Regions from separate parts of the Homo sapiens genome. Here all the other regions are linked to region 1. Evidence: fine-mapped expression QTL. A gene starts in region 1. Each other region holds a variant in brackets. All regions are shown on one strand. Distances are between the middles of the regions. Region 1 holds the start of MCUR1 (mitochondrial calcium uniporter regulator 1). Region 2 has its middle 48 kb from the start of RANBP9. Region 3 has its middle 39 kb from the start of MCUR1. Region 4 overlaps PHACTR1 (phosphatase and actin regulator 1). Region 5 overlaps MCUR1 (mitochondrial calcium uniporter regulator 1). Region 6 has its middle 45 kb from the start of MCUR1.

Region 1 (5,077 bases):
TGGTCAGCAAATCCGTGAGAAAGAACACTCTCTTTTTGCCCTATACTCTTGCATTGAGAGAAAAACAAATTGGAAATTACTAGCTTGTCAGAAAAAGCGCAACAAAAGGCAAAATACAGAATAAAGACCAAACTCATCTCCGACTCCTAATTACTGAAGGACAGTGACACCGAGTTCACTACTCATTCCCCACTCTCTGTATATAAAGTTTCCTTCACTTTATTGCTCTACTAATCAGTTTTTACCCCAGCCAATGATATTCTTAAATTATAGATATGGTCAACATTTAGTGGGCCTATCTGTTGAAGAAAATATGAAAAATGTGTAGTTAGTGATGGCTACTAATGAATATGTATAGACTGCCCAAAGTGATAATTTTGCCAAGTCTGTTGATTATCAGAAATGATTTTTTTCTTTAATCAACAATATGCTATCTAATAAATTGATTCTATTTACTTTCCTCATCTCCAGGGCAGTGATCTCTCTCACCTCCTTTAAATAGTCATGAGCCCCACAACTACCTTTCAGCCCAGGACAGAGGGGCACACACGACAGTGGTCTATGAGACTATAATACATATTTTTACTCTACCTTTTCTACATTTAGATGCGCAAATACCATTGTGTTCAGATTGCCTCTAGTATTCAGTACGGTAACATGCTGTTCAGGTTTGTAGCCTAGGAGCACTAGCCTCTACCTGATAGTCTAGGTGTGTAGTAGGCTGTAGCATCCAGGTTTGTGTAAGCACACTCTACAATATTCACACAAGGAAGAAGTCGCCTAATGACTCATTTCTCAGTAGGCGACTGTCCTGAAGAGATGCATGACTCTAATTAAATGCTACCTTCTCAATGAAATCGATTCTGATCACCCTATTTAAATTCACAACTGGAGACCCATTCCACTTCCCAAGCCTTATCCTATTTTTCTATACCAGGCATCGAATTACGAATATATAAAAATTATTTGTATATATAAATTATATATACATCAATTATGCATACGTATATCCACACACACATATTTACTGCGTCTGCTCTGCTAGAATTAAGCTCCAGAGGGAAGATTTTGTGGACTGATATATCTCACACATCTAGAAAAGCGCCAGGGACAGGGCAGACGCTAGGACTCCACGAATTAATGATTCCATCAGAATTTGAAATCAAACTGTAAAGCAATCCCTTCATTTCCCAGAGCTTTGCTGCTCAAACATACACACCCCTTCCCCTTGAACGCCCAACAGGCTGGGCGCTGCCAAACAGAACTCCTGGAAGGCGGCGCCCAAAAGCAGACCCTAGGAGTGGGCGGGCACCAACTCCCCGCCCCAGCACGCACCTCCCTCCAACTTTAGCGCCCGGGATTCCCAGGAATTCGTCTCTTCTGGGCTAAGCCCCGCCACCGCGGCCGAGCAGGGCGGGCCCGGACCTTCGACCCACGCTCCGGGCAGATGCCGGTGGCCTTGGAGGACCCGCCCTCCGGCCTGCCGGGCCTTTCCTCGGGGAGGCTGTAGCTGAGATCCCCGCCCCGCCGTCCAACCCCGCGAGACGAGCCCCCTCTCCTCTCCCGCCCGGGCCTCACCTCTCCTGCAGGAAACGAGTGCAGGCGCCGGGCCGTGGTACTGGGGAAGGGCGCCGGCGGCAGCGGCGACGCCCGGTGAGCACCTCCACGCGCTGCTGCGCCCGGCCGGGGGTGCGGCATACCCGAGGCGCGAGCGCTCCCAGTCCCCGAGCTGCCGGCGCGGGGCTGCGGCGGCCAAGCGCGGGGAGGGCACTAGCAGGAGGAGGAGCAGCGGTGAGGCACGTGACACGCCGCCGCGGGCCGCCGGGGCGCGAGGGCGCAGCGCCCCCAGACCGTCGGAGAGCGCAGAGAGGCAGCGGCGTGCTGAGGTTTCGCTGCCGCCCGGTCTTCCGCTGAGGCCCACGGGCAAGAAGAGAAGCCGCTGGCGGCCGGGCAGGCGCTGGGTCCTCTGGCCGCCGACCGAGCCGCAGTCCATCCCCGAGCAGTTCACTGGCCCGGGCGCGCGCTCATGCCTCTCGCTTTTGGCGCCGGCCACGCGCGGTCCAGGCCCAGAGTCCGACAGCGGGAGCGAGCGTGGGCCACAGCGCAGGACCGCCCTTTCCTGCCGGGCGCGCGGGCGGGGCTCGGGACGCGCGCCGGGGGTGGGGTGGGGCGGGGCGGCAGGAGCCCGCCGTGGCGCTCCGAGATGCGGGGACCGTGCGAGCCCCCACCCCATTCGCTAGGCGACGGCGGCGACCGGGAGGAGCCTGCGGGCACTCCGGAACTGGAAGGAGCTTGTTGCTGTCACGATTTGCATTTTCACTGCACTGCTGTCCTTAAAAAGGAATTACCCCGGTGCCCTTCAGAGTCCTGTGAAAAGTCTCAGACCGACAGGCTGCCCTAGATTTCACTGATTATCCTAAGTCCCCAAACATGTGGTTCTGGGGAGCATTTTAAGGAATTATTAGCAGGGCCCAGGGAAAGGCCCTCACATAATACATTCAAAACTAAATTTTCAGAGTTTTTGTTTCCAGATTAGAGCACCAAAAACATGGGAAGGTAGCAATCTGGGAACTTAAAACGTGGGGCATGAATGTTAAAATGAGACCTGTCGGGTATATTTGAAACTGGTAATGTTTAGTTTCGTGGACTTTTTGAAGGCCTGTTACACCATTCACAGATAACTGGTCCCTTATGTGAATTTGGAAGATGTTAGTTGAATAAATAAATGAAATGCATAAGGCACCAAGCTAGGAGATTTTATTAAAAATAAAAAACCGCAAAACAAATTGTTCTTATCCTCCAGAAGCTGTTTTCCTATACAGCCATATGTGTACACATACGTGATGGAAGAATGTGTTATGAGCCATGAGAGATGTACAAAGTGCTGGGAAGAGAGGAGCGTGCATATGGATGTGCAAGATAAGTGTCTATCAAAATTTGAAGAACTGAAAAACAGGATTCAAGTCATAGGTTGGTGCAAAAGTAGTTGCGGCTTTTGCCATTGCAAGTAATGGCAAAAACCGCAATTACTTTTGCACCAACCTAAGACACTTTTGTAAAAGGAGTATACATTTATAAAATTGGTAGAAAAAGCAGTTTAGCAATGAGTATCAACAAAAATTTGTAAACTTTTCTCAAGTCACCTAACTAAAAATGGGGATAATGGGAATAATCCAAAATATTAAATATCTACTAGGTTTGACTATACAAACTTGTCATTTTTATGGGTCAAAATGCTTAATATTGGTAATTTCACATATGCACAAAAGATAGTCATTGTATCATAATTTGTGATTGTGAAAAAATGGGAAAATAGTGCACAACATTAGAGGAACGATTAAACTGTGGCACAAACTTTAATGTTAGTCCTTTGTAATTTTTAAAAATTGAGGTATAATTTGCATACAGTAAATTCCACAGACTTAGGTGACATTTAGCAGTTGATAAATGTCATTTAGCAACTTGATGACATTTAGCAGTTGTATATACCACCCAGTCAAGATCTAGAACATTTTCATTGCTCCAGAAAGTTATTTTGTGCCAGTTTTCCAGACAATCCACCACCACCCCAAGGCAACTATTTTCTCTTTTTTTTTTTGAGACGGAGTCTTGCTCTGTCACCCAGGCTGGAGTGCAGTGGTGCAGTCTCAGCTCACTGTGTCCTCTGCCTCCCGGGTTCAAGCAATTCTCCTGCCTCAGCCTCCTGAGTAGCTGGGATTACAGGTGTCTGCCACCACGCCTGGCTAATTTTTGTATTTTTAGTAGAGACGGGGTTTCACCATATTGGCCAAGCTGGTCTCGAACTCCTCACCTTGTGATCTGCCCGCCTCGGCCTCCCAACGTGCTAGGATTACAGGCGTGAGCCACCGCGCCCGGCCAACTATTTTCAAATTTCAATGACCATAGATTAGTTTTGTCTTTTTTTGAACTTCATGTAAATGGAGACCTACAATATGCATTGCCTTGTGTCTTTCTTCTGCTTTGCGTCTGACTTCAATATCAATGAGATTCATCCATGCTGTTGTATCAGTAATTAGTTGCTTTTAATTGTTGAATAGTATTCCATTGTATGACCATACCACAAGCGGTCATCCATTCTATTAATGGCCATTTGCTTTGCTTATAGTTTTTGGCTATTATGCATAGGGCGTTATGAACATTCTTGTATAAGACCTTGTGTGGACATAATTTTTATCCCTGTTGGGGAAAGTATCTGGGTCAAATTGCTGAATCATATGGTAGCTTAACTTTAGACACTGCTGAATTGTTTTTCCAAAGCGACTGCACCCTTTCACACTCTTAGCAATAGATGAGCGTTTCGGTTGTTCCACATCCTTGCCAAATTTTGATATTTTCAGTCCTCATAAAATGGTACCTTATTGTGATTTTTAACATAACATTTCCCTGATGCCTAATGATGTTGACTAACTTTTCATGTATTACTATTACCAGCCATATTGAATACAATAACATATGTAAAGCACTTAGCACAGTGCCTGGCCTATGATAGGAGTATAATGAATGTCAGTTCTAACTACAGGTTGGATAGCATCCACTTTTCCTTGGATGTGACACCTGTTGTTTTATTTTCCAAAGCATTCCCTTTCTTTTGGTCTCAGCACCCTAGTTTTCCATGGGCAGTGGCTCTTCTCTGCTCTCAGTCCATGCGGTTTGGAGAGACTGATCGCTCTGCAGACCACAGGCATGGGCATGTCACCCAATCAGAGTTAATGAGCAGCCGGGCGCGGTGGCTCACGCCTGTAATCCCAGCACTTTGGGAGGCCAAGGAGGGCGGATCACTTGAGGTCGGGAGTTGGAGACCAGTCTAGAGAAACCCCGTCTCTACTAAAAATACAAAATTAGCTGGGTGTGGTGGCACATGCCTGTAATCCCCGCTACTTGGGAGGCTGAGACAGGAGGACTGCTTGAACCCAGGAGGTGGAGGTTGCGGTGAGCTGAGATTGCACCATTGCACTCCAGCCTGGGCAACAAGAGTGAAATTCCATCTAAAAAAAAAAAGCTTCAATTCTAGGATTCTTTTTTTGTTTGTTTATTTGAGATGGAGTCTCACTCTGTT
Region 2 (5,077 bases), 55 kb before region 1:
GAAAAAGAAAAAATTAGCCAGGCATGGTGGCACGTGCCTGTAGTCCCAGCTACTTGGGAGGCTGAGGCAGGAGAATCGCTTGAACCTGGGAGGTCCAGGTTGCAGTGAGCCGAAATGGTGCCACTGCATTCCAGCCTAGGTGACAGAGCAAGACTAGGTCTCAAAAAAAAAAAAGATATTTTGGGAGAGAGAGAGGCAGGGAGGAGAAAAGAGACTACATTCACATAACTTTTATTACAGTAGACTGTTTTAATTGTTCTAGTTTATTACCAGTTACTGTTAATTTCTTACTGTGCCTAATTTGTAAATTAAACTGTATCATGATTATGTATCTATGGGCAAAAACACAGTATATAGGGTTTGGTAATATCTGAGGTTTCAGGCCCACAGACCCACTGAGGGTCTTGGAAAGTATCCCCCACAGATAAGAGGGCACTTCTGTATATTGTGAAAACTACCAAATTCATATTTCAGCTGGGACTGCTCTTCTGAATGCCAGACTCATATCGTATCCAACTGCTGACTTGACATCTCCACCTGAACATTTAACAAGGCATCTCAAATTTAACATGTCCACAATGAAAGTCAGATTCTACCTTGCAAAACAGGCTCTTTCCAAAGTGTGAATAACGGCTTCCCAAAGATGTCCACATCCGAATCCCCAGAACTTGTGCATGCTACCATACAGGGCAAAAGGGACTTTGCAGATGTGAGAAAATTAAAGATCTTGAGAATGAGGAGATGCTGCTGGATTATGTGGGAGGGACCAATGTCATCACAAGGGTCCTTATAAGAGAGAGGGAGGAGGATCAGAGTCAGAAAGAGAAAGGAGATGTGACAGCTGAACCAGAGGCTGGAATGACGTACTCTGAAGATGGAGAAGAGGCCATGAGCCAGGAGATGCAGGCAGCCTCTAGATGCTGGAAAAGACAAGGAAATGGATTCTCCCTTGAAGCCTCCAGAAGGAACACAGCCCTGCCAACCCCTCGACTTTATCATTTATTTATTTATTTGTTTATTTATTTATTTATTTATTTTTGAGACACAGTCTCCCTCTGTTGCCCAGGCTGCAGTGTACTGGCATGATCTCAGCTCACTGCAACCTCCACCTCCCAGGTTCAATTATAGGCCTGCTCCACCACACCTAGCTAATTTTTTTTTTTTTGTATTTTTTGTAGAGACAGGGTTTCACCATGTTGGCAGGCTTGTCTTGACCTCAGGTGATCTCAGGTGATCCACCTGCCTTGGCCTCCCACAGTGCTGGGATTACAGGCACAAACCAAGCCACCACACCCAGACTCAACCCCTTGACTTTAGGCTTCTGACCTCCAGGACTGTAAGAGAGCATACTAGTGTTGTTTTAAGCCACTAAGGTTGTGATAGTTTGTTATGGTGGCAATAGGAAACCCATACACAAGCTTCCCCGTGTCAGTAAATGGTGACACCAGCCTTTTAGTTACTCCAGAGAGACACTGGTGTTGTCCTCATTTTTTTCTCCTTCTCACACCCCAAATCCAATTCATCAGCAAATCCTATTGGCTCTGTCTTCAAAATATATCCAGAATCCAACAACTGTTCACACCCGCCACCAGCTACACACTGGTCTCCTTTTTCATGGAGGACTACAGGCACCCCCTAGTGAGCCTGCGTGCTTCCCCCTCGCCCGTCTGCGGTCTATTCCACACAGCTGCCAGCGTGATCAGGTTAACCCAGAAGCCAGACTTTAGCATTCCTCTGTCATACCCTTCGATGGCTCCCCACCTCATGAGGAAGAGAAGGCCATGTCTTTACCATGGCCCACAGTGGCTCCCCCAGTCTGGCTCCTGGACACCTCCCTGAGCTCATCTTCTGTCCCTGCCTCCTGGCTCAAGCTCCAATCCCACCAGCAGGTGCTGCCTAGAGCGTCCTTCAGGAGCTGAGGCGTGCTCCTGGCTGCCACCCCTCGGATGCTGAGGTGGCCTTGGCTGGAGAGCGCTGTCCCCCTCAACACCCTATCTCACTCCCTTCTCAACGTAGCCAGTATCCAGTGGCTGAATGGTTTGGAGGTGTAAAGGCCTGTCCCCTCTCCCCAGCTCAGAGCAGCTCTGAAGGGCCATCCTATCTTCAACATCCCCATGGGGTTGTCTGGGGCTTTAGTTGAGACTGCATCACAGCTCATCCCCCTCTGCCCAGTCTTGCTTCCTGCCCCTCTTTCCCTTCCATGGTTTGATCCCAAGAGCACTTCCTAGTAAGCATCATATGTGTGCCAACCATCATCTCAGACACTGCTTTCCCTGACCTGTGAACCTGATCTCTTTGCTATACCAAAACACCCCAAGTACCCTTGATCTCAAAGCTTCTGCGGTAAGTGTTCCTTCCGCCCGCAAAGCTCTTCTCCCAGGTATTCAGGAAGTTTACCCTCTCCCTTCCTTCAAGTCTCTGCTCAAATGTCCCATGGCCTGTGGCCTTCCCTCACTACCTTATGTAAAATAGCAAACACCACCACCGTCACCAGCACGACGAACTCCATTATGCA[GC/G]TTTTTTCCCTATAGTATTTAACCTAATTAGATATATATTTCCTTGTTTATTCATCTTCTCTCACTATACTCCAGTTTCACGAAGGCAGATACTTGATCTACTTTGTTCATGGCTACTTCCATAATAACTAGAATAGTGCCTGCCACATAGTAGAGGCTTAGTACCGAGTCAGGCTGGTGCTGGTCTTGCTGTGACCTGATTCCAGTAATTGGCTCACCACCATAGCCCCTGTGATGAAAGTTTCGCCTTGAAGCTTTTCATCTTGACCCCTTTGATACCTTTGATTCTGTGTCAATGCCATCATGGCTTCCTTTATATCCTCCACAACTAAAGGCCCACCTGTGTTTTCCTCAGTCTTTCTAAAGTCCTACCCTGTGGCTTAGTCCCTCCATACCTGCCCTTAAGCTGGAGGAACCCCACCTCTCAGGCTCCAGGTGCACTTGTGTGGTGGATTACCGAAACTCTCCCACTCCAAGTCCCCATTCTCATCAACGTCCCTCCAGGGTCTGGCCAGGCTCCCTAAAAGCCCTGTCCAAACTATGAGCCACACCTTGACCTTCAGCATCAAAGAGGGCTTTACTGCAGGGGAGGAAGCTCCCATAAGAGCCAGAACGACCTGGGTGTGAGTCCCAGCTCTGGCATGTACCAGTGGGGCAGCCTTGGCAGGTCACTCACTTCCCTGAGCAATGGCTTACTCCCTGGTAAAGTTAAGTCAATGATGTCAGCCTCGCAGAGTGGCTGTGCAACAAGACATGAACATGTATGAAAACAGTCAGTAAATTTCTCCCGACTGAACTGAAATCCTCTGAAGCACCTGCCCTGTTGTGTTAAATGGAAAAGTGTGGTGTCCTTAGGAAGAAACTCTGACACTAGGTAGCTCTATGTGCAAAAGAATTTGCTGTGGGAAACCTTTCAGTACAACATGAAGTTCCATGATAATTCCAAACATATGTGAACGATATATAAGCTGTGTAGCAAAATCATATTGTCAGCCAAGTATACTAGGTCTAGGCATGATCTCAAGGATGGGAAAAGTTTGGCTTCACCTCTGAAAGGTAACCCTCAACCAAGAGGTAGCACAAAAGCATAATCGGTGGATGCGTTTCCCTCCCCCATCCATGCCTTGCCCAGATTTAATGGAAACATTTATACTAAACCTTGCCAAATTCACAGAAGTTTTTCCAGTTCCCATTACTTTGCTATTCAAAAGGAAGGGAGTAATCGCTTCAGAGGTAGGGTGTGGTACAGTACACTTAACAGAGTGCTGAAAGCAAGTTCAACACAGATGACCAATGTTGCCAGATTGCACAATTCTCGAGTTATTTTCGTGATGGGCAATGTTTTTCCTTTTTATTCCGTTTTCCTCCCTCTGGAGTTGGCTAATGATTTCCAGTGAATAGAACTCTGTCCAGTACAATCCAGTTAGCCCACAATGAACAGACTGTCAATGAGAGATGCTGCATTGACAGCCTTTATTTTAGTGGGCTCCCCGTATAGTAAAGATGGAAAAGGAACTGCTGTTGGGGGCATTCATTTGTAATTTGTGCTCTTGGTCTGGAAGTGGGCCATTAGCTCAGCAAAGATAATACAGAAACATACAATAAGGTCACCACTCTTTCTGAAGCCTGATCCATCATCTCTTGGAGAATCAATACCTGTATAGACACGTTATGAATGTGTTTAGTCTTTTCCTACGTGACCAGGTAGGAAGCTTCCTGGTCCAACCTGGGTGGGTGCTTCATGTTGGCTTGGCAGGTAGTGTCAGGCATCTGGAGATACAATACACATGTTTAGCTCCCTGCAATCAGCAGGCTGGTACATTCACTACCAGCTGCATTTTCTCTGTGATACTGCCGGAAAGAATGTGCTTAAAGTCACTATTGATTACTCTTTAATCCACACTATGTTAGGAGCAAAATTGAATCCGACAAGACATGGTATCTCTTTTCCACATACTTTGTGCATTCCAATAAAGAGGGCTGTCCTTGAGAGTATGAAGTGTGTATCCAAGAAGCCAGGCAGATTCCTTCGTATTCAGCCCACGGATTGTTCAGAGATTCCCAATTTCCTCCTGGGGAGTTGGGTGCAGGAGTCAAGAGAGATATTTGAGTCAGGGAATATTTCCCAAGAGGAGCCTTAGTATTTAAACATCCATTTTCTTTCTTTCTTTCTCTTTCTTTCTTTCTTTCTTTCTTTCTTTCTTTCTTTCCTTTCTTTCTTTCTTTCTTTCTTTCTTTCTTTCTTTCTTTCTCTTTCTCTCTTTCTTTCTTTTTTTTTTTTTTTGAGACAGAGTTTCACTCTTGTTCCCAGGCTGTAGTGCAATGGGCGTGATCTCAGCTCACTGCAACCTCCACCTCCTGGGTTCAAGCGATTCTCCTGTCTCAGCCTCCTGAGTAGCTGGGATTACAGGCGCCCGACAACAGGCCCGGCTAATTTTTGTATTTTTAATAGAGACGGGGTTTCACCATGGTGGTCAGGCTGGTCTTGAACTCCTGACCCCAGGTGATCCGCCTGCCTCAGCCCCCCAAAGTGCTGGGATTACAGGCGTGAGCCACCACGC
Region 3 (4,572 bases), 39 kb before region 1:
TGGGTCTACATTGCTTTTTTGAGCTTTAATAGTCACTACAAAAATCTGCATCTTCACTCATAAGGCAGCGAGACCACGAACGCACCAGAAAGAAAAAACTCCAAACACATGTAAACATCAGAAGGAATAAGCTCCTGACGCGCCACCTTCAGAGCTGTAACACACCGCGAGGGTACGTGGCTTCATTCATAATTTCAATGAGATCAAGAACCTACCAGTTCCAGACATACTAGCGCTTTGGGAGACCAAGGCAGGCGGATTTCTTGAGTCCAGGAGTTCATAGACCAGCCTGGGGAACATGGCAACACTATCTACAAAAAAATACGAAAACTAGCTAGACATGGTAGTGCGTGCTTGTAGTCTCAGCTATATGAAGGGCTGAGGTAGGAGAATGGCTTGAGCATGAGGAGGCAGAGGTTGCAGTGAACTGAGATTGCACCACTGCACTCTGGGTGACAAGTGAGACCCTGTCTCAAAAACAAGGGTACTGAATCAAACAAGTATTTAAGGCCTAAACTCAGGGTGACTCTGAGACCCAAACAGTGGGCTCCATGTCAACATCAACCCCTTTATACGAAGATTCCCCAATAAAAATATAAATATTCACAATCACCCTGGGGTCTGCATGGAAGATTGATGTATAACACTTGAGAGCTTACGGATATGTCCATGGGTTACCTACGTTGTTTTAATACCTACTACAGTCTGTACCCTAGATACTCGAAGAAGAATGTTCTTTTACTAGGATACTGCATCTTAGTAAATTCACCTTAGTACCCTGGGGTGGTTGCCAGGGAGGGTACTAACAGAAGTTTGCTTGTTTGGTGGTTGGGCAAGTAATATTACTAGTAATTACTAGCAAAGGATTCCAGTTATTGCATGCAGACTACACATTTTATATGTAGGTATGGGGTTTTACTATTTATTTATTTATTTAGAGATGGAGTCTCACTCTGTTGCCCAGGCTGGAGTGCAGCGGAATGATCTCGTCTCAGGGCAACCTCCGCCTCCCAGGTTCAGGTTGTTCTCCTGCCTCAGTCTCCCGAGTAGCTGAGATTACAGGCACCTGCCACCATGCCCGACTAATTTTTTTGTATTTTTAGTAGAGACGGGGTTTAACCATCTTGGCCAGGTTGGTCTTGAACTCTTGACCTGTGATCCACCTGCCTCGGCCTCTCAAAGTGCTGGAATTACAGGCGTGAGCCACTGCACCTGGCCAGGGTTTTATTGTTTAGAAAATATTTTCATGTATTTGACCTCATTTGATCCTTACCACATGTGGTCAGCCAGGTAGGGTATCTATTCCCTGGAATCAGAATGCTTCGGTTTGACTCTGACGTCACCATTTATTAGCTATGTGTTCTTGGGCAAGTTACTTCAACTTTTTTATTACTATTTTTTTTTTTTTTTTTTTTTTTTTTTTGAGTCAGAGTCTCACTCTGTCACCCAGGCTGGAGTGCAGTGGCACAATTTCGGCTCACTGCAACCTCCACCTCCTGGATTCAGGTGATTCTCCTGCCTCAGCCTCCTGAGTAACTGGGATTATAAGTGCACGCCACTGTGCCTGGCTAATTTTAATATTTTTAGTAGAGACAGGATTTTGCCATGTTAGCCAGACTGGTCTTGAATTCCTGACTTCAGATGATCCACCTGCCTCGGCCTCCCAAAGTGCTGGGATTACAGGCATGAGCTACCACGCCAGGCCCACTTTTTTCTTTCTTTCTTTCTTT[C/CTT]TTTTTTTTTTTTAAATAAATAGAGATGGAGTTTCCCTATGTTGCCCAGGCTGGTCTCAAACTTCTGGGCTCAAGGGATCCTCCCAACTTCACCTCCCAAGATGTTGGGATTATAGGTGTGAGCCACCTCATCCAGTCTACTGAAACTTTCTATACCTCAGTATCTTCATCTGCAAAATAGAGATCACTGTAGTACTTACTTCATAGGGATGTGATGAAGATTAAATGAGATTGTGATTACTTTAAAACTATGCCTGGGCCGGGCGCGGTGGCTCACGCCTGTAATTCCAGCACTTTGGGAGGCTGAGGCGGGTGGATCACAAGGTCAGGAGTTCGAGACTAGGCTGGCCAACATGGTGAAACCGTGTCTGTACTAAAAATACAAAAAAAAAAAAAAAAAAAAAATTAGCCAGGCATCGTGGGAGGCACTTGTAATTCCAGCTCTTGGGAGGCTGGGGTAGGAGAATTGCTCGAACCCGGGAGGCGGACATTGCAGTGAGCTGAGATCAGCCACTGCATTCCAGTCTGGGTGACAGAGCAAGACTCTGTCTCGGAAAAACAAACAAACAAACAAAAAAACTATGTCTGGAGGCCAGGTGTAGTGGCTCATGCTTGTAATCCCAGCACTTTGAGAGGCCAAGGCAGGCAGATAGCTTGAGCTAAGGAGTTTGAGACCAGCCTGCGCAACATGGCGAAACTCCTTTTCCACCAAAAAATACAAAAAATTTGCCGGGTGTGGTGGTACATGCCTATAGTCCCAGCTACTTGGGAGGCTGAGGTGGGAGGATTGCTTGAGCCTGGGAGGTGGAGGCTGCAGTGACCTGAGATCTCTCCACTCTAGCCTGGGTGACAGAGCGAGACCCCAACCCCCACCAAAACAAAAAACAAACAAAAAACTACAGCTGGAATACAGTAAATAAATGCTCTATAAGCATTCCTATTATAATTATTGTTGTTGTTGTTTTCGAAACATAAGGACTAAGGTGCTCTGGACTGAATTTGTGTTCCCCCAAATTCCTGTGTTGAAACCCTGCTCCCTAGTGTGATGGTATGAGGAGGTGAGGAGGTCATAGGCATGGAGCCCTCATGATAGGATTAGTGCCCTTATAAGAAGAGACTCTAGGCCGGGCGCGGTGGCTCACGCCTGTAATCCCAGCACTTTGGGAGGCCGAGGCAGGCAGATCACAAGGTCAGGAGATCGAGACCATCCTGGCTAACACGGTGAAACCCCATCTCTACTAAAAATACAAAAAATTAGCCGGGCGTGATGGCGGGCGCCTGTAGTCCCAGCTACTCGGGAGGCTGAGGCAGGAGAATGGCGTGAACCCGGGAGGCGGAGCTTGCAGTGAGCCGAGATCGCGCCCCAGCACTCCAGCCTGGGCGACAGAGCAAGACTCCGTCTCAAAAAAAAAAAAAAGAAGAGACTCTAGAGAGCTTGTTTCCTCCGTCTCTCCACTCTGTGTGAGGACACAGCAAGAAAACAGCCATTTGTGAACCAGGAAGTGGGCTCTCACCAGACACCAGATCTGCCAGCCAGTACCATGATTTCAGACCTCCCAGCCTCCAGAATTGTGAGAGAGAAACGTTTGTTGTTGAAGCCGCCCAGTCTACGGTATTCTGTAATAGCAGTCCGGACTGACTAAGACTTAGGCTTGGCAAGGTCAAATGGTTTTCCCAAGAGTGCAACAAGTGGCAAGGTGGGGAGCTACGGCCAGGGCTCCTGACTCATAGTATTCTTACTGGTCAAATATCTGCCTGTAAAAACTGGTTTTTAGCAACCGTAACAAGATATCGTGCTGCTAAAACGAAATAATCATGGTTTTGTTAAGTCTCAGGAAAAAGGTAATAGGTACGGTTTTCTCCATCTTAAATGTTTTCCCATGGAGTTCTAAGCTTTGGAGATTTGCTACTGCTTGCCTACTAGCACTTGCTGGTGCTTACAACCAAGCAAAGGCATTCACATACATTTTTTCTTTCTTTCTTTTTTTTTTTTTTTTGAGATGGAGTTTCGCTCTTGTTGCCCAGGCTGGAATGCAATGGCGCAACCTTGGCTCACTGCAACCTCCACCTCCCAGGTTCAAGCAATTCTCCTGCCTTAGCCTCCCAAGTAACTGGGATTACAGGCATCTGCCACCATGCCCAGCTAATTTTTGTATTTTTAGTAGAGACGGGGTTTCACCATGTTGGCCAGGCTGGTCTCGAAGTCCTGACCTCAGGTGATCTGCCTGTCTCAGCCTCCCAAAGTGCTGGGATTACAGGCGTGAGTCACCGCGCCCAGCCCACATACATTTCTTTCTTTCTTTCTGTTTTTTTGTTTGTTTTGAGACAGGGTCCTGTTCTGTCATCCAGGCTGGAGTGCAGTGGCATGATCAGAGCTCACTGTAGCCTTGACCTCCTGGACTTGAGTGATCCTCCTGCCTGAGCCTCCTGCCTGCGTCATCACACCCAGCTAATTTTTTTTTTTTTTTTTTGAGAAGGAGTCTCGCTCCGTCCTCCAGGCTGGAGTGTAGTGGCGTGATCTCAGGTCACTGCAAGCTCCGTGTCCCGGGTTCACGCCATTCTCCTGCCTCAGCCTCCCACGTAGCTGGGACTACAGGCGCCTGCCACCATGCCTGGCTAATTTTTTGTATTTAATTTTTGTATTTTTTAGAGGTGGGGTTTCACCATGTTGTCCAGGCTCATTCACATAAATATTAATAGGGAAAGCTCAAAAAATTAATTCATGACTGCCTATAACCCCTGCCTCCCTGCCTTAAAAACCCTTACCTATATGCCTCAGATCTTAAGCATAAGCTGCCTGATTCTCCTTGCTTGGCACCCTACAAATAAACACCCTGCTTTC
Region 4 (5,077 bases), 770 kb before region 1:
TTGTCCCAGCTACTCAGGAGGCTGAGGCATGAGAATGGCTTGAACCTGGGAGGTGGAGGTTGCAGTGAACTGAGATCATGTCACTGCACTCCAGCCTGGGTGACAGAGCAAAACCCTGTCTCAAAAAAAAAAAAAAAAAAAAAAAAAGGCAGTGCTGCTGCTTCAGCGTAGTGAGCTGACAGCCTACCTTACCTCCACTCTGATCTTTGGTTCCCATTCCTAGGGTGGTGAAATAAGGGAGGTATATAACCCCTTCTAATTACAAGCAAAAGCGAAGGTTATCAGATCCTGCAACATAAACGTTCTGTTATTGAGTTCACTTAGGGTTAAGAAACAAGAATCCAATTTATGAGAATCTTAGGTCCTCCAAAAACCCTAGGAGCATTTAGCACATGGGGAGATCTCCACTGGGGTCCCAAATGGGCTGCCCTCCTGCCTCTGGTGCTGACTCTGACTAGACATCAGATGGCACAGACACCATGCTTCCTTCATTCCAGGCTGCTCCCTGGGATACTGTATGACGAGCACTTTCTAGGCCAGCAGAAAGCCAAGGTGATGCCATCTTTGCACAAGCCTTTTGAAAGCCAAACCACCATGAGAAATATGGTGTACCTGAGGAGCGCCCCGAGCCCCGGCCCAGCTCCTCCCGCTGCATGCCCTAGGAGCCCACCAAGAGTAATCCCAGGTTGCCACCAGGGCTGGGGTTCAGAACACCATCTGGCCTAGGTACTTTGGTTCTTGTCATTAAAATCATGCATACATCAAATATTTTCTTTCTGGCCTGTCTAAGGAGAAAGAAAAATCATCTCCCAATCATTTCCACCCTATGGGTAAAACAAAACCCAGTTTTGTCATAAGTGGGAGCCCAAACTGTGTGGTCCTTCAAAGAGTGTTCTCTTGGATGGTAGAGCAGGAAAGACCCCAGGAGTTTGCTTGCCCATGGCTCTCTCCTCACTTCAGCCTTCTGAAGGAGCTCAGCTGCCCAGCTTCCAACGTTTTGATTCAACATGCTCAGTCCTGGCAGTTGACATTCAAGCTGATTCATGTGTGGCTCAGCATTTTCTCCAGACAGCATGAGGTAGCCACCTTTGAGCAGGCCAAAGTGAAGCTGTCTTTACATGCTCCATTTCCAAAAAAGGCTGTTTGTGATTCCAAAACATGGCAGGCCACGCCCTGCTCTCCCACTTGCCTTCATCCCTTTCTTTCTCTGGTTCCTGCAATGGGAGACCACTTTATCCTGAGACCTGTTTTTTGGTTTCCATTTCTTTGTGTGTGTGTGTGTGTGTGTGTGTGTGTGTGATGGAGTTTCACTTTTGTCACCTATGCTGGAGTGTAATGGTGCAATCTTAGCTCACCGCAACCTCTGCCTCCTGGGTTCAAGCAGTTCTCCTGCCTCAGCCTCAGTAGCTGGGATTACAGGCACATGCCACCACACCCAGCTTATTTTTCTGTTTTTAGTAGAGACAGGGTTTCACCATGTTGGCCAGGCTGGTCTTGAACTCCTGACCTCAGGTGATCCACCTGCCTTGGCCTCCCAAAGTGCTGGGATTATAGGCGTGAGCCACCGCACCAAGCCTTCCCTTCCTTTTCAAACTGTGTTCATAAGTTGGCTCACTCTTGAGCCATCCTCACACTTAAGCCTTCCAATATCATTATCTGATGGCAAAGCTAGCCCCATCATCAAATTAATTGGAGAAAAATGTAATGGGGTGATTAAAATATAAATCAGCTAAACCTAATGTGATCCAGTCTGCTCAATAATCTACTGAATTTAAGAGCTAAACATCATGAATTTCATAATAATACTTATTAAGGATTCATTTAACTATTGAGTTATAATTATACCTTTATAATACCCTGTGTTCCTTGCCACTCTTGGTTTTTCAAAGGCACTTCTAATTTCATATCATTATTTTAATGGGGCAATTTCAGAATAATTTGTATCCATTTCTTAAAGATGTGATTATGGAAAAGCGTTTCGGTTCTCATGGCACTTTTTTTTTTAAGACAAGTAACGATACATATTTTCATACCTCTGAAGATGTGAGCAAATGAACTGAATCAAATGCAGTTACCCAGTTATCTACTCAGTAAGTCATTATTGAGTGCCAACTATGAGAAGCAAACTCAGTATCAACCCTGAATAATTACTATCTTGATTTTTTAAAGGATTCTGTATATAATTTCTCTTTAACCTGTAGCAGATGTTTGATGTTGGCTGAACTCAGAGAATTCTCAAACTGAATATTTTAAAAACTTCACTTTTGTGTCTTAGGCTGTTTTGAGAATCAAAGAATGATAGGAAATCTTCCAACCAAATGCAGATACCCATCCCCTTGAAGCCCACTAGGATCCAGAGATCCCGGGATGAGTGCTTCTACCAGGAGTATTTCATTTTGGCTATAACACGTGTTTAGAGAAGTACTAGAAGATCATTCTGAGCAGCTTACTCAGGTTGAGAGTAATAAGTCAGGTTGTTTTAATATAAAAAATAGGTTATTTCATGGAGGAAAAAA[C/A]TTGAATAAGTGATTCTTGGCCTTGTCTGAAGGCCAGTACAGGAAATTAGAACTTCCTACTGTATGCTGTGGGGAGCCACCTGCAGTTCCTACAAGGAACAGGCTTCTAGTAAAAGTATCCAATACAGGTTTGAAGGCAGGAGAGTAAGTCTGGGAATATAGGTTTGGAGACTTGTAAAATGTGGACAAAAGCAACAAGACTATACACCAAGGTAAGGAATGAGGGGAAAGTGATGAGTATGAAAGAGGAAGTGACCTGTGAGAATCAGACCTCTGGACTATGGTGACTTTGCTTCTCTCCTGGACTCAGCACCTCTTTGCTGTGGTTTCCCACAATTATTACTACTTGTGTGGCTCTGCTGACATTGTTGAAGAAGCACCAATTCAAGCAGCTGATGCCTTTTAAAAAGCAGAATGCTCAAATTCAGTGTTACTTCTGAGGCTATTTACTTGCCTGATTTGATTTCTTTTTTTATTCCTTGTCGTAGCTGTGTTGTTGTTATTGTTACCACTCTCTTCAGCCATTCCACAACCCGTACTTAAAACCTTCTGAATCTTTTATCTTCCTCCTTTAGCCTCCAGTAATCTGTTATTTTACCACTGCTGCGAAATTAATCTCCCTGAGGCCCACATCTGATCTATGCCATTTGTGATCAGAGACCTCAGTTCAAACTTTCAATCACTCAGCATAAAATCTCCTGATCAGTAATACTTTTGTGCATTTTTGATCCCACTTCTTCGCCTTCCTAAGAACCATGTTTCATACATTTCTCAGCATTTTTTCTACATCTTCGATCTCTCACTTTCCCCTGGCTCTGGCAGCTCAGCCTACTGACCCCCAAATCAAGTCTCTCCTTCCTACCTTGGCAAATTTCCTCTCAATAGTTCTTCATTACCTCAGGAAATAAAGTTCTAACCCCTAAAAAGCCTTTGCAAAAATACTGAATTATCTGGCTGCAAAGTTCTTGTCCCCATTGAGCTGCCATCCTATTCTGCTTCTTCCTTTATCATCAAATTCTTTAAAACATGTAAAATCATCACATTGACCTAGTCATGAAAACTAAAAATGTTAGCCATTCTTGCTTCCTGGTACTTTCTCATGTTTATCCAGAGAGTTACCAAATCTGCTGATTCTCCCACCTGGCTGAATCCCATCTTTTCTTCCTATCCTTCTGTCATGCCCCTGCTTGAATCCTAGTTACTGTGATTGCAGTGTCCTCCTGATTGTTCTCGCTGTCAAGGATTTCCCCATATTCCGAGTCAGGTTACCTTTGCTGCTGCAAAGATATTCCTAAGAAACAAATCTAATTGCATCCTGATCACGTACCTTCTCGATCAGGCCGACCCCCCCATTCTACCCAAAGTACTCTTGATCTATTTTACCAGGTTCCACTCATTATTTTTTTCCCCAAAGCAAGTATCTTCTGGCATACTCTATAATTTATTTGGTTTCAGTGTTTGCTGTCTGCCCTTCACCCTACCTCTGCATGTGAGCTCTATGAGTTGGTATTTTTATTTGTTTTGTTTACCGTCATAGCCTAAGCATCTGGTACAGAGTGGGCATACAATACATTTTGGTTGAATGTGATAATACCAGTTTCCCATTTTCAAATTTTCCTTGTCCCTCTGCTCAGAGGATGAACCCCAAATGCCAATTCATTTCAAGAGCTTACATGATCTGGTTCCAGACCCTCCAACCCCTGTCTCTCTCCACTAGTGCTTCATCTCACCTAACGTCACTGAGGCTCACAGTTGACTGAGTTCCTTGAAGTCCCTAGATGTTCCATGCCTTCAGCCCTCTCTATTCCTGTTGGGTCTGTTTCTCCTCCCAGGGATCCGCTTCTCCCTCTTCCCCTTGCCAGGAGAACAGCCCCTTCTCTTTCAAAACTTAAGCCCAAAGTGACCTCCCTCGAGGTCTTCTCCAATGCTGTGAAGCAGAATTAGTTGCTCTCTCCTCTTCACTTACATTGAGTTTTATATTGTAGCTCTGTTGTGGTATGTTCTTACACACTGATCTCTCTGTCTCCTCCTTGGGACTCTGTGCTCAAGGCCAGTTTTCCTGTGTGTCTTCCCCAGAAATGATCATAGTATCTGGCAGAGATTTAAGTGGCCACTTAATCAAATGATTGAAAAGAGGAGCTCCCAGTGCACTGAACCAGGTAGTAAAGGTTTAAGTGCCCTGTTCATTGCAGCATGTCCAAATCATCACTGCCCTCACCCCTAAACCTGTGTCCTCGCCTGTCTTCCTTATCTCTATGAATGAAGGGTACCACTCTGCTGACCTGAATCTTGGAATTGCCAATGATCTGCCTCCAGTCCTTCTGGTCACTCAATCAGTCACTAAGTTCTTTTGACTTTACTTCTGACGTGTCTCTCAATTCCATCTACTTTCTTTCAGTCCTGCTGTGGGGAGCTCTTACTAGCTTATCACATCTGTCACCAATACAACTGCCACAGCACACACTCAGAATTCCATATGTATTTAATGAATGGATCTCCTGAGTTAAAACTATGTTCAGACCACAACAAGCTGACTATCATTTTTATATGGTCATTGGCAG
Region 5 (5,077 bases), 28 kb before region 1:
CCAGCTACTTGGGAGACTGAGGCAGAATTGCCTGAACCCGAGAGGCAGAGGTTGCAGTGAGCCGAGATCACAACACTGCACTCCAGCCTGGGCGACAAGAGCAAAACTCCATCTCAAAAAAAAAAAAAAAAAAAGGAAAAGAAAAAGAAATAAAAAACTCAAGGCAAAGAAAAGGTTTTTAGTTTGTTCCCCTACCACTGATGTGAAATGGGGACCTAGGGGAGATGTGGAAGGATGACTAAAATCTAACACATTGCCCACCATTTTTGAACTTGAAGGTTGAGTTTGCAAATCATTTACCGCCTTTGCCTACCTCATCTGCTAGTTGCCTTCTGGAAATTTTGCAGTTCCCCCTCAAGTCTAGTTATTTGATTCTAACTTTGGTACAAGATTTCTGGTTGGAGAAAATGAGATGTAACTGAAATTTCCAGGCTACCATTCATTCATTCACTTTAGATACAGGGTCTTGCTTTGTGGTCCAGGTTAGTCTCGAACTCCTGGCCTCAAGTGATCCTCCTGCCTTGGCCTCCCAAAGAGCTGGGATTACAGATGTGAGCCACCGTGCCCAGACCTGTATTTCATTTACCCCCTTTTCTGAGATGTTCCTTTCCTCTCCTCCTGAGCAGGTATTAATTACACTGAAGATCAACCCACACAGGCTGACTCAAGAAGAGCTCAATTTTTTGGAGGTGGGGAATTTGCTCAACAGGCCCTCAGGGAAGGTGAAGTGTGCATCCCTCTGAGGACCCTTCTGCTTCCTGTGACCCCAGCTGCTTGCTTTAGATATTTCCTTCCCAAGATTTTTCAGGGTGGAGCTCACTAATCATTAAGCTGTAAGGGGATGTACTGGGTGTTTCCTGCAGACACACAGGCTCTCTGTGCTTGAAGAAGTAGGTCTAGGAGGATTATGCCCTCCAGAGAAGAAGCAAAGGTAAGAGGTGCAGAGGGGAGTTCTCACAATGGCATTTTTTTGGTCCTTCCTGAACCTTGGTTACATAAGCCAAAAAAGGATATTCTTTTTTCTGCTCAAGCTAGCCTGATTTGGATTTCCATGAATCCTTATAGCTATTTTTATTTTATTTTGAGACAGGGTCTGGCTCTGTCACCCAGGCTGGAGTGCAGTGGCACAACCACAGCTCACTGCAGCCTCTACCTCCTGGGCTCAAGCCATCCTCCCATCTCAGCCTCCTGAGTAGCTAGGACTACAGGTGTGTGCCACCACATCCGGCTAATTTTTCTATTTTCTGTAGAGACAGGGTTTCACCATGTTAGCCAGGCTGGTCTCGAACTCCAGGACTCAAGTGACCCACCCGCCTTGGCCTCTCACAGTACTGGGATTACAGACAAGACCAACCGTGCCCGGCCAGATATTTTTTAAAATTGTGTATTTCTCAGCCAGGTGCAGTGGCTCATGCCTGTAGTACCAGCACTTGGGAGGCTGAGGCAGGAGGATGGCTTAAGCCTAGAAGTTTGAGACCAGCCTGGGCAACATAGTGAGACACCATCTCTGCAAAGAATAGAAAAAAAATTAGCTGGGTGTGGTGGCGCATGCCCGTGGTCCCAGCTACTTGGGTCCCAGGCTGAGGTGGGAGGATCGCTTGAGCCTGGGAGGTCGAGGCTGCCATGAGCAGTGACTGCGCCAATGCACTCCATCCAGCCTAGGCAATAGTAGTATCTTGTCTCAAAAGAAAAAAAAAAAAGAAAATTGTCTATTTCTAAAAACCTGTATTTAAACCTCATCATTTCCCCTCAAACAAGTAGCTTGTATAAAATTACTCATAACATGAACATGCTAAAGAAATTCTTTTGAATGATGAAAAGTTACTTTGTACATTATATTAAAATTTATTTTCTATGTATACCCAAATTTTCAAGTATTAGATTTACTTAGAAATTCACCAGTGTTATCATTATACAATTGGCTGGAATTAACAGTTGCAATACAGTTATTCTAGCTTTTCATATTCAATTTGAATGATCAGAAAAGTATATTAGTCACACAGAATTAAATATTTTAGATAGTAAGAATCTTACACTTTATTAGATAATAAAACATAATTGATATTTGCTTAAGTAACAAAAAAGTTAAGAAATTGGGTTATAAGCAAAGGAACATAAGTGTAAAATGTGTAGAAAGATAAATATTTTCCAAATAAAATTCTAATAAAAGGCTAAACATTCTCAAATATTTTACATACATGAAGAATAAATTATTTCTGGTTAACATGTTTTTGCCTTAGTGCCAAAAAAGCCAGAACAAATTTGATAAGCTCACATTAAAATCAAAGTTTTCTAGATATGAATTCTATATACCATCTCTATATTTGTTTAGAATTTTGCAAAA[T/C]TCTTAGAAGATTGCATGTTAGGGTGGGGGAAGATAAATGCTTGCCAATACTGACATGGTTAATTAACAGACAGGCTTGAAAGGAGAAGGCTAGAAGAGGGAAGATTATGTCACTAAGCATAGCTACAAAAGGAAAAGCCACATGGAAGCAGAGACAAAGGCAATCCCGACACACAGAGGCATGTTTGTTGCGGCTCAGGGTTTCTGTTTTTCAAGTGTTCAGAGACGAATTCCAGCAAGACTTCTGGTTTGAGTCAAGCCTTTCAACCGAGGTGCTTGGCATACTTAACGGAAAAAGCGAGTACATTCAGATTTAGTTTTGCTAGATATTAAACTAGAAAACTGGATGACAGTAAAACCAATACAGAAACAAAAAGTCATGTTTCCAGTAAAGAACCGTACACACAAGCAGGTTTTGCTTATTAATGTAGCAGGAGAGCATGGAAATCGGAGTTCAGACTCTTTAGAAAAGACAAAAGGCAGGGGAGGGGAGAGAAGAAAAGGAGGAATGCAGAGAAGCCCTCCAAGAATGATGAGTGATTCGTGCAGGAGAGGGAAATACAGACGTTCCGTCCATGTGAGATTCTGCTTCAGGTATTGGACATCGTTCCCTCCACCTGCACCTAGAGGATATGTGTTCAGGATCTCGCTATGGTTAGTTACCCATGTGCTAGACATAGGTTGCTAGCTAGAAGTTTTGCCAGCCATCTTCCCCCCTCCTAGTGCTAATGCCTAATTTCCTAAAGTAATCTGAATCCTTATAAGCCAGGGTAGCTCAGGAGGTTCTATTTACTTATTTATTTATTTTGAGACAGAGTCTCACTGTGTCGCCCAGGCAGATCTCGTCTGGGCCCGAGTCTCGTTGCAGTGGTGTAATCTCTGCTCACTGCAACCTCTGCCTCCCAGGTTCATGCAATTTTCCTGTCTCAGCCTCCCGAGTAGCTAGGATTACAGGGGTGTGCCACCACGCCTGGCTAATTTTTCTATTTTTAGTAGCGAGAGCATTTCGTCATGTTGGCCAGTCTGGTCTCCAACTCCTGACCTCAGGTGATCTGCCTGCCTTGGCCTCCCAAAGTGCTGGGATTATAGGCATGAGCCACCGCACCCAGCATCAGTAAGTTTTAATATTACGTCTAGTCGGCTCACGGGTGCTTGAGCCAGAAGTGGGAAGGGTACACTTGTATTTTGGGCTCAAATGGTTTTCAAATAAAATACATCTGACCAAATAAAGTGAACACAGTCCTGAGCCCTCCTCTCTCCAGATATGCATGCAATCCACACCATCAAAAGAAGAGTTCACTGTTCCCAAGGCCAAGAAGAGGCTATGCTGTACTGCAAAGAACTCTATAGCAAAATCGAACACCCAAATTAAGTGCCAGAATGATGCAGCCCGCTCTCACCAGGAAGAACGACATGTGAGAAAACTTATAGCAGATGCAAAAATGTCAACCCACCATGTTATTTAAAAAAAAATTTTATCAGGATACAAGGACACTTCACTGTTTTTAACCCACACAAGGTTAGGTAATGTTTACCTTGAAACATAATCGCATATGGCCCTTTATGCCACTCACCTAGGCCTTTAATAATGAGGGCAATTGCTAAGTGTGCTGTCTCTTCTGGGGACTTCTCTCTGAAAGGGGGATGATATATTGATAAAATATTTTATTAATCAGTTAAGAATTTTTGATCTACTTGAAAAAGATTAAATTATAATATTTCACTTTGAAACTGCTATTGCTCATGCAAAAGTACTTGATTTTCATACTATATGGAGCTCACAATCTTTGGACTACACAAACATTCTCTAAAAGGGCAATGACTTATATTTTCCAAAGTTTAGACATGACATCCAAAGGACAAAAGGTAACTATTTTTTTTACCAATGTGGTTGGAACAGTGACAACGAGCAATGTATTCACCAAACTGATCAAAAAATCTGCCTGTGGTTCCTTCACTGTATGTGTGTGCAGAGAAAGGCAGAAAAGCTTCTATCCATGTCATTGTCTCTCTTGCCCATGTGCCAGTAATTTGAATAAGATGAGAATGGGCCAGGCGCAGCGGCTCACGCCTGTAATCCCACTACTTTGGGAGACCAAGGCGGGTGAATCACGAGGTCAGGAGTTAGAGACCAGCCTGGCCAACATGGTGAAACCTCATCTCTACTAAAAATACAAAAATTAGCTGGGCGTGGTGGTGGGCACCTGTAATCCCAGCTACTCAGGAGACTGAGGCAGGAGAATCGCTTGAACCCAGGAGGCAGAGGTTGCAGTGAGCAGAGATCACGACAATGCACTCCAGCCCTGCGACAGTGCGAGACTCCGTCTCAAAAAAAAAAAAAAGGTGAGAATGTGCTTTTCCAGAATAACCCCAGTTGTATCTAGAATTTGTTTTCAATATAAAGGCAGGTATGAGAATGTTTTGAACAACAGAATTAATCCATCTAGATTAGAATGCTGTGTGGCATGACCATTCTCGAATTTTGAAAGCCTGAGCTGGTTGTGGGCAAGGGGATATTCATTAATGACATAAATTTCATTTATGAAATATGTATCCATCATCTAGGTATCTTATACATGGAGAGCTGACTGCATCCCTTGTATAAAAAGTAAATGAAGACCGGAAGGAAGCAGACTTTGTCCTGCAAACTGAAGCAAAGTTCCATGCTAAGAATCAGCAGGTTTTCTAGGTAGGTAATGCCACCAGTGGAGGATTATTACAGTTCTCAAATCA
Region 6 (5,077 bases), 44 kb after region 1:
CCAGGCTGCAGTGCAGTGGCACGATCTTGGCTTACTGCAACCTCGACTTCCCAAGTTCAAGGGATTCTCCTGCCTCAGCCTCCCAAGTAGCTGAGACTACAGGTGTGCACCACTGCACCCAGCTAATTTTTGTATTCTTTTTAGAGATGGGGTTTCACCATATTGGCGAGGCTGGTCTCGAACTCCGGACCTCGTGATCCACCTGCCTCAGCCTCCCAAAGTGCTGGGATTACAGGTGTGAGCCACCACGCCGGCCCCAAGAACTTGCATTTTTGACAAGTTTTAACGTGCTGACATTGCTATGTGGGGACTGCACTTTGAGAACCACTGTTCTGAAGCACTTGTCTGTTTTCTTTATTTGTAATGATTTTTTTGTTTGTTTCTTTTTGAGATGGAGTCTCACTTGGCCGTCCAGGCTAGAGTGCAGTGGTGCAGTCTTGGCTCACTGCAACCTCCTTCTCCTGGGTTGAAGCAATTCTCCCTGCCTCAGCCTCCTGAATAGCTGGGATTACAGGTGCCTGCCACCATGCCTGGCTAATTTTTGTATTTTTTTAGTAGAGATGGGGTTTCACCATGTTGGCCAGGCTGGTCTTGAACTCCTGACCTCAGTTGATCCACCTGCCTGGGCCTCCCAAACTGCTGGAATTACAGGCGTGAGCCACCACACCCGGCCTGTAATGATTTTTGATACCCTTTTAATTGAAAACTGAAGCAATTGGCAAAGCCTAAATGCATGCTATTTTATACTCTTTTGTAAAATGTTACTTTTGACTGACTATCCGAACCTGTGATTCTACTGGTAATAACTCTACCAAGTTACAAGATGCTTTTTTTTGTATGGCTCTACATTTCTCCCAATGGACTTTTCACCCATTTGTGTTGGCGTAAGAAATACATTTGTATAAGTCAGCAGCTGTATCTTGTGTTTTGTTTAGGGAATTGTGGATAATATTAACTTTAATATACATTTCTGTATTGCCAGTTCATCAAAAAGGAGGCTTGCGATTGTTCCCTGTTTATTTAAAAATTGACATTTTAGGTTTCATTTCTGCATAGTAGATGTTGCTTCCTTAATGGTTATGTTAAAATTCATTTCTATTTTAAAAACTTGACCATATGATGTTTCCAGGAAGTATAAACCTTATCAAACATCTGTTCTAATTTTTCTTGGTAAAATCATTGCTGTTGCATTAACATTCAATAAGATTTTTGCATTCATACTGTGAAAAGTTTTTTAAATCAAAGTTTTGAGTGTTATTGTTAATCCAAACAGCCTAAGAACTTTTATTATCTTTCACTAATTCAAAGAAGATTTTTTTGCACAGTGCCTCTATTAGTCTGGAAAATTCAGTTTCATAGAAATTGAAGCTATAAAGGGAATATTAACTTGTTCAGAATTTAAATTCTTTGATATAGTGTCTGAATTTCTTGGGATGGAATTTGTGGCAATCTCAAGAATTCACACAGTAGGTAAAAAACGTGTATTTTGAACAATGCCAAAATAAATGGGTATGTCTGGTGCTTGCTTACTGCCTTTTTACTTAAGAAATTTGAGATTCTGAATCAGGTGGTGTATGTTGTCTTTCTCTTAGGCCTGCTTTTATGCATGAATATACTCAATTTATTGTATTATTCTACCATAGCCCTGCCTGTAACATTTTGAAATCTTCTAATCATTACAATTAACGTGTCCCCCAAATGAATGTAATTCCCAAAGTTGAATCATACTCTCTAACAGCAAAATCAAGAAATGGTTTCTTTATATTTTGTTTATTTCCTTTTTCAAAAAATTGGATCAATGGGATGTATTTGCATTCTAAACTCAGTTAATTATTTTGAAAAATATTTTGAGTTAAACAATGAAAGCAAAATATGGAAGTTCCTTAATTTCTCTAGTTATTTTATTAAAGTTGGCCAAACCATTCAATAATTTAATTTTGCATTTTAGGACTTAGCTATGTTATAAATCCAAAAGCTGCTCAATGCTTACATCATATTCTATTGAAAGCTTTGTGTTCAATAAATACTTTTACACATTAAAACTTTCGAAAAGCCTTATTGGAGTGTGTAAAGTTACAAAAACAACAAGTGCCTGTTAAGCGATAGGGGGTTTATAATTCAAGTTCAAGATATCCTACTTTAATTTTGCTCTTGTGAAGTATGTTCTCTGTGCTAAAAAACCATATATTTATATCCTGTAGTTATTAAAACGTAAAAAAATGGAAAGATGCTAATCTTATCGCTTTATAGTTTGATTTGTTCACAACATTATATCATGGACAGATTAATCTTCAGGTTAAAGAGTTTTGCTGTAAGGGCACGGAAAAATGAGATGGAAGCTAGAGAGGTAAGATATTTCTTTCTTCTGAAGAAGCTATAAAATGAATATTTTAA[A/AT]ATATATTTTAAGTGAATGCTTCAAGTCATTGTCAGCATATTAAGTTGGGTCAACTTAGAGGCGAGATATTTCTGAAATAACTAATATTTTGGAAATACTTCATTAACTCTATAAGCGTTATTTTATACTATGTTGTTTTGTACTTGTGAATACTGTGAGATTATTTTCACTATATCTCAATCTTAAATGATTCAGCAGTGCAATTCATTTTCTATGGGTGTTTTGGCCACTAAATAACATTTCCAATTTGAAGATTCTTTACCTCCTGATGTTTTTTGGATTAGGAATCTATGTTGCTTAAAATAAAACACGAAATTATTGTTTTGTCAGTACTAAGATATATAGACATATTTGTAACTGATGGTGAAGCATAGCTAATTTTCAGATTTTTTGAAATTTTCATTTTCAGAATTTTGGTTGCATCATATTTTGTTTACATGCCTTCTCTTATAGAGCTGCAAAAACTCCCTATATTAAATAGATTAGCCCTTTTTCCTGTGTCTTGCAAATGTTTTTATACTTTATTATTTGTGTTGGTTTTGATGGATGAAATTTACATTTTATGTAGTCAAATTGAGAGGTGACAGCATGCTGGCATCTCTCGCAGCCCTCGTTAGCTCTCGGTGCCTCCTCGGCCTCAGCGCCCATTCTGACTGCGCTTGAGGAGCCCTTCAGCCCGCCGCTGCACCGTGGGTGCCCTTCTCTGGGCTGGCCGAGGCCGGAGCCGGCTCCCTCGGCTTGCGGGGAGGTGTGGAGAGAAAAGCACGGGCGGAAACCGGGGCTGCGGGAGGCGCTTGCCTTGAGGAGCCCTTCAGCCCGCCGCTGCACCGTGAGTGCCCTTCTCCGGGCTGGCCGAGGCCGGAGCCGGCTCCCTCGGCTTGCGGGGAGGTGTGGAGGGAAAGGCAGGGGCGGGAGCCGGGGCTGCGGGAGGCGCTTGCGGGCCAGATAGAGTTCGGAGTGGGCGTGGGCTCGGCGGGCCCCGCACTCGGAGTGGCTGGCTGGCCGGCCCTGCCACCCCGGGCAGTGAGGGGCTTAGCACCCAGGCCAGCAGCTACGAAGGGTGCGCCGGGGTCCCCCAGCAGCGCTGCCCCACCGGTGCTGCGTTCGATTTCTCGCCGGGCTTTAGTTGCCTCCCCGCAGGGCAGGGCTCCGGACCTGCAGCCCGCCATGCCTTGAGTCCCACCCCGCCTTCGCTGTTGGCTCCTGCACGGCCTGAACCTCCATGAACGAACGGCGCCCCCTACTCCACCGCGCCCGGTCCCATCGACCCCGAAGGGCTGAGATCGCGGGCCCGCAAGCCGCGGGACTATCAGGCAGCTCTACCTGCGGCCCCAGTGGGAGATCCACTGGGTTAGACAAGCTGGGTTCATGAGTCTAGTGGGGACTTGGAGAACCTTTGTGTCTAGCTAAGGGATTGTGAGTGCACCAATCAGCACTCTGTGTCTAGCTCCAGGTTTGTGAACACACCAATCAGCACCCTCTGTCTAGCTCAGGGTTTGTGGATGCACCAATCGGCACTCTGTATCTAGCTAATCTGGTGGGGACTTGGAGAATCTTTATGTCTAGCTAAGGGATTGTGAATGCACCAATTGGCATTCTGTATCTAGCTCAAGGTTTGTAAATGCACCAATCAGCCCTCTGTGTCTAGCTCAGGATTTGTAAATACACCAATCCACACTCTGTATCTAACTTTTGTGTGTAGCTCAGGGATTGTAAACACACCAATCGGCACCCTGTCAAAACAGACCAATCAGCTCTCTGTAAAACTGGCCAATGGGCTCTCTGTAAAATGGACCAATCAGCAGGATGTGGGTGGGGCCATATAAGAGAATAAAAGCAGGGTGCCTGAGTCAGCAGTGGTAAGCCAGTCAGGTTGTTTCCTGGGGATGTGGAGGGTTTGTTGTTTTACAGGGGTTGTTGTTTTACTCTATAATTAAAGTTTATAATTCAGTTTTTTGAGTTTTGTGAGTTGCAACAGTCGTTGATTAAAAATGTGCGGTTTCATTCCCGAAGTTGATGAGCGTATTAACGCACCGGGGAAAATCAGTAACTCCAGATGTGGGGCATCAAGAGCTGTTATACTCCCTGAGTAAGGGTTGTGGTTTCATTTCTGAGTTGGTGATGATCGTGAACCCAGCAAAAGGAAGAAAGTGATTACATCCAAACGTGAGCAGGAGGAAACTCGGAACATACTGTTTTTAAGAACTAGTATCACTAGAGTTTGCAGCTTTAAAGTCTAGACTAAGAACGCACGAATTCTGGACACAGTTTATCGGTCTTCTCTCGTGGATACTGGGTCTCACCTCAAACATGTCTCTTGAGTGGGGCACAGTGGCTCATGAGTGTAATCCCAGCACTTTGCGAGGCTAAGGGGGGAGGGTCACTTGAGTCCAAGAGCTGGAAACCGACCACACAAATAGTGAGATGCGAACAAAACAACACCTAGCCAGGTGTGGTTGCATGGCATGGGCACGTAGTCCCAGCTATTTGGGAGGCTGAGGTGAGATGATTGCTTGAGCCCAGAAGATTGAGACTGCAGTGAGCTGTGATTGCATCACTGCAGCCCACCCCGGGTGACAGAGCAAGACTCTGTCTCAAAAGGAAAAGGCCTCTTCTTTAAGCTAATTCACTAAAGTTTTTACTTAAGTTTTCTTTTTCATAGTTTCATTTTTAATGTTTACT

The links. PIP is the estimated chance that this variant, and not a neighbour inherited with it, causes the effect.
Region 2: its variant is the best candidate, but not a certain one, in a credible set for the expression of MCUR1 in fibroblasts (GTEx, PIP 0.82).
Region 3: its variant is the best candidate, but not a certain one, in a credible set for the expression of MCUR1 in monocytes (Quach 2016, PIP 0.62).
Region 4: its variant is the best candidate, but not a certain one, in a credible set for the expression of MCUR1 in spinal cord (GTEx, PIP 0.76).
Region 5: its variant is the best candidate, but not a certain one, in a credible set for the expression of MCUR1 in cerebral cortex (GTEx, PIP 0.83).
Region 6: its variant is the best candidate, but not a certain one, in a credible set for the expression of MCUR1 in whole blood (INTERVAL, PIP 0.69).

The regions. Positions count from the first base shown.
Region 1 is chr6:13,812,437-13,817,513 of GRCh38, forward strand. MCUR1 (mitochondrial calcium uniporter regulator 1) reads right to left here and starts at 2,121. Exons shown (of 9, transcript NM_001031713.4): 1 at 1,579-2,121. The coding sequence starts at 1,993. It overlaps LOC107986571 (a long non-coding RNA gene), which reads left to right and starts at 1,374. Exons shown (of 2, transcript XR_001743986.3): 1 at 1,374-1,653. RefSeq lists silencers at 1,309-1,978, 2,059-2,328 and an enhancer at 2,489-2,588.
Region 2 is chr6:13,757,320-13,762,396 of GRCh38, forward strand. No RefSeq gene overlaps it. Among named protein-coding and RNA genes, the nearest start is that of RANBP9, 48 kb to the left of the region's middle. The variant GC/G (reference allele first, on the strand shown) is at 2,516.
Region 3 is chr6:13,773,394-13,777,965 of GRCh38, forward strand. No RefSeq gene overlaps it. Among named protein-coding and RNA genes, the nearest start is that of MCUR1, 39 kb to the right of the region's middle. The variant C/CTT (reference allele first, on the strand shown) is at 1,731.
Region 4 is chr6:13,047,256-13,052,332 of GRCh38, forward strand. All of the region lies in intron 4 of PHACTR1 (phosphatase and actin regulator 1), which reads left to right. Among named protein-coding and RNA genes, the nearest start is that of TBC1D7, 280 kb to the right of the region's middle. The variant C/A (reference allele first, on the strand shown) is at 2,517.
Region 5 is chr6:13,784,728-13,789,804 of GRCh38, forward strand. It overlaps MCUR1 (mitochondrial calcium uniporter regulator 1), which reads right to left. Exons shown (of 9, transcript NM_001031713.4): 9 at 1,830-5,077. Among named protein-coding and RNA genes, the nearest start is that of MCUR1, 27 kb to the right of the region's middle. RefSeq lists an enhancer at 2,925-3,757 and a silencer at 4,426-4,594. The variant T/C (reference allele first, on the strand shown) is at 2,345.
Region 6 is chr6:13,856,844-13,861,920 of GRCh38, forward strand. No RefSeq gene overlaps it. Among named protein-coding and RNA genes, the nearest start is that of MCUR1, 45 kb to the left of the region's middle. The variant A/AT (reference allele first, on the strand shown) is at 2,395.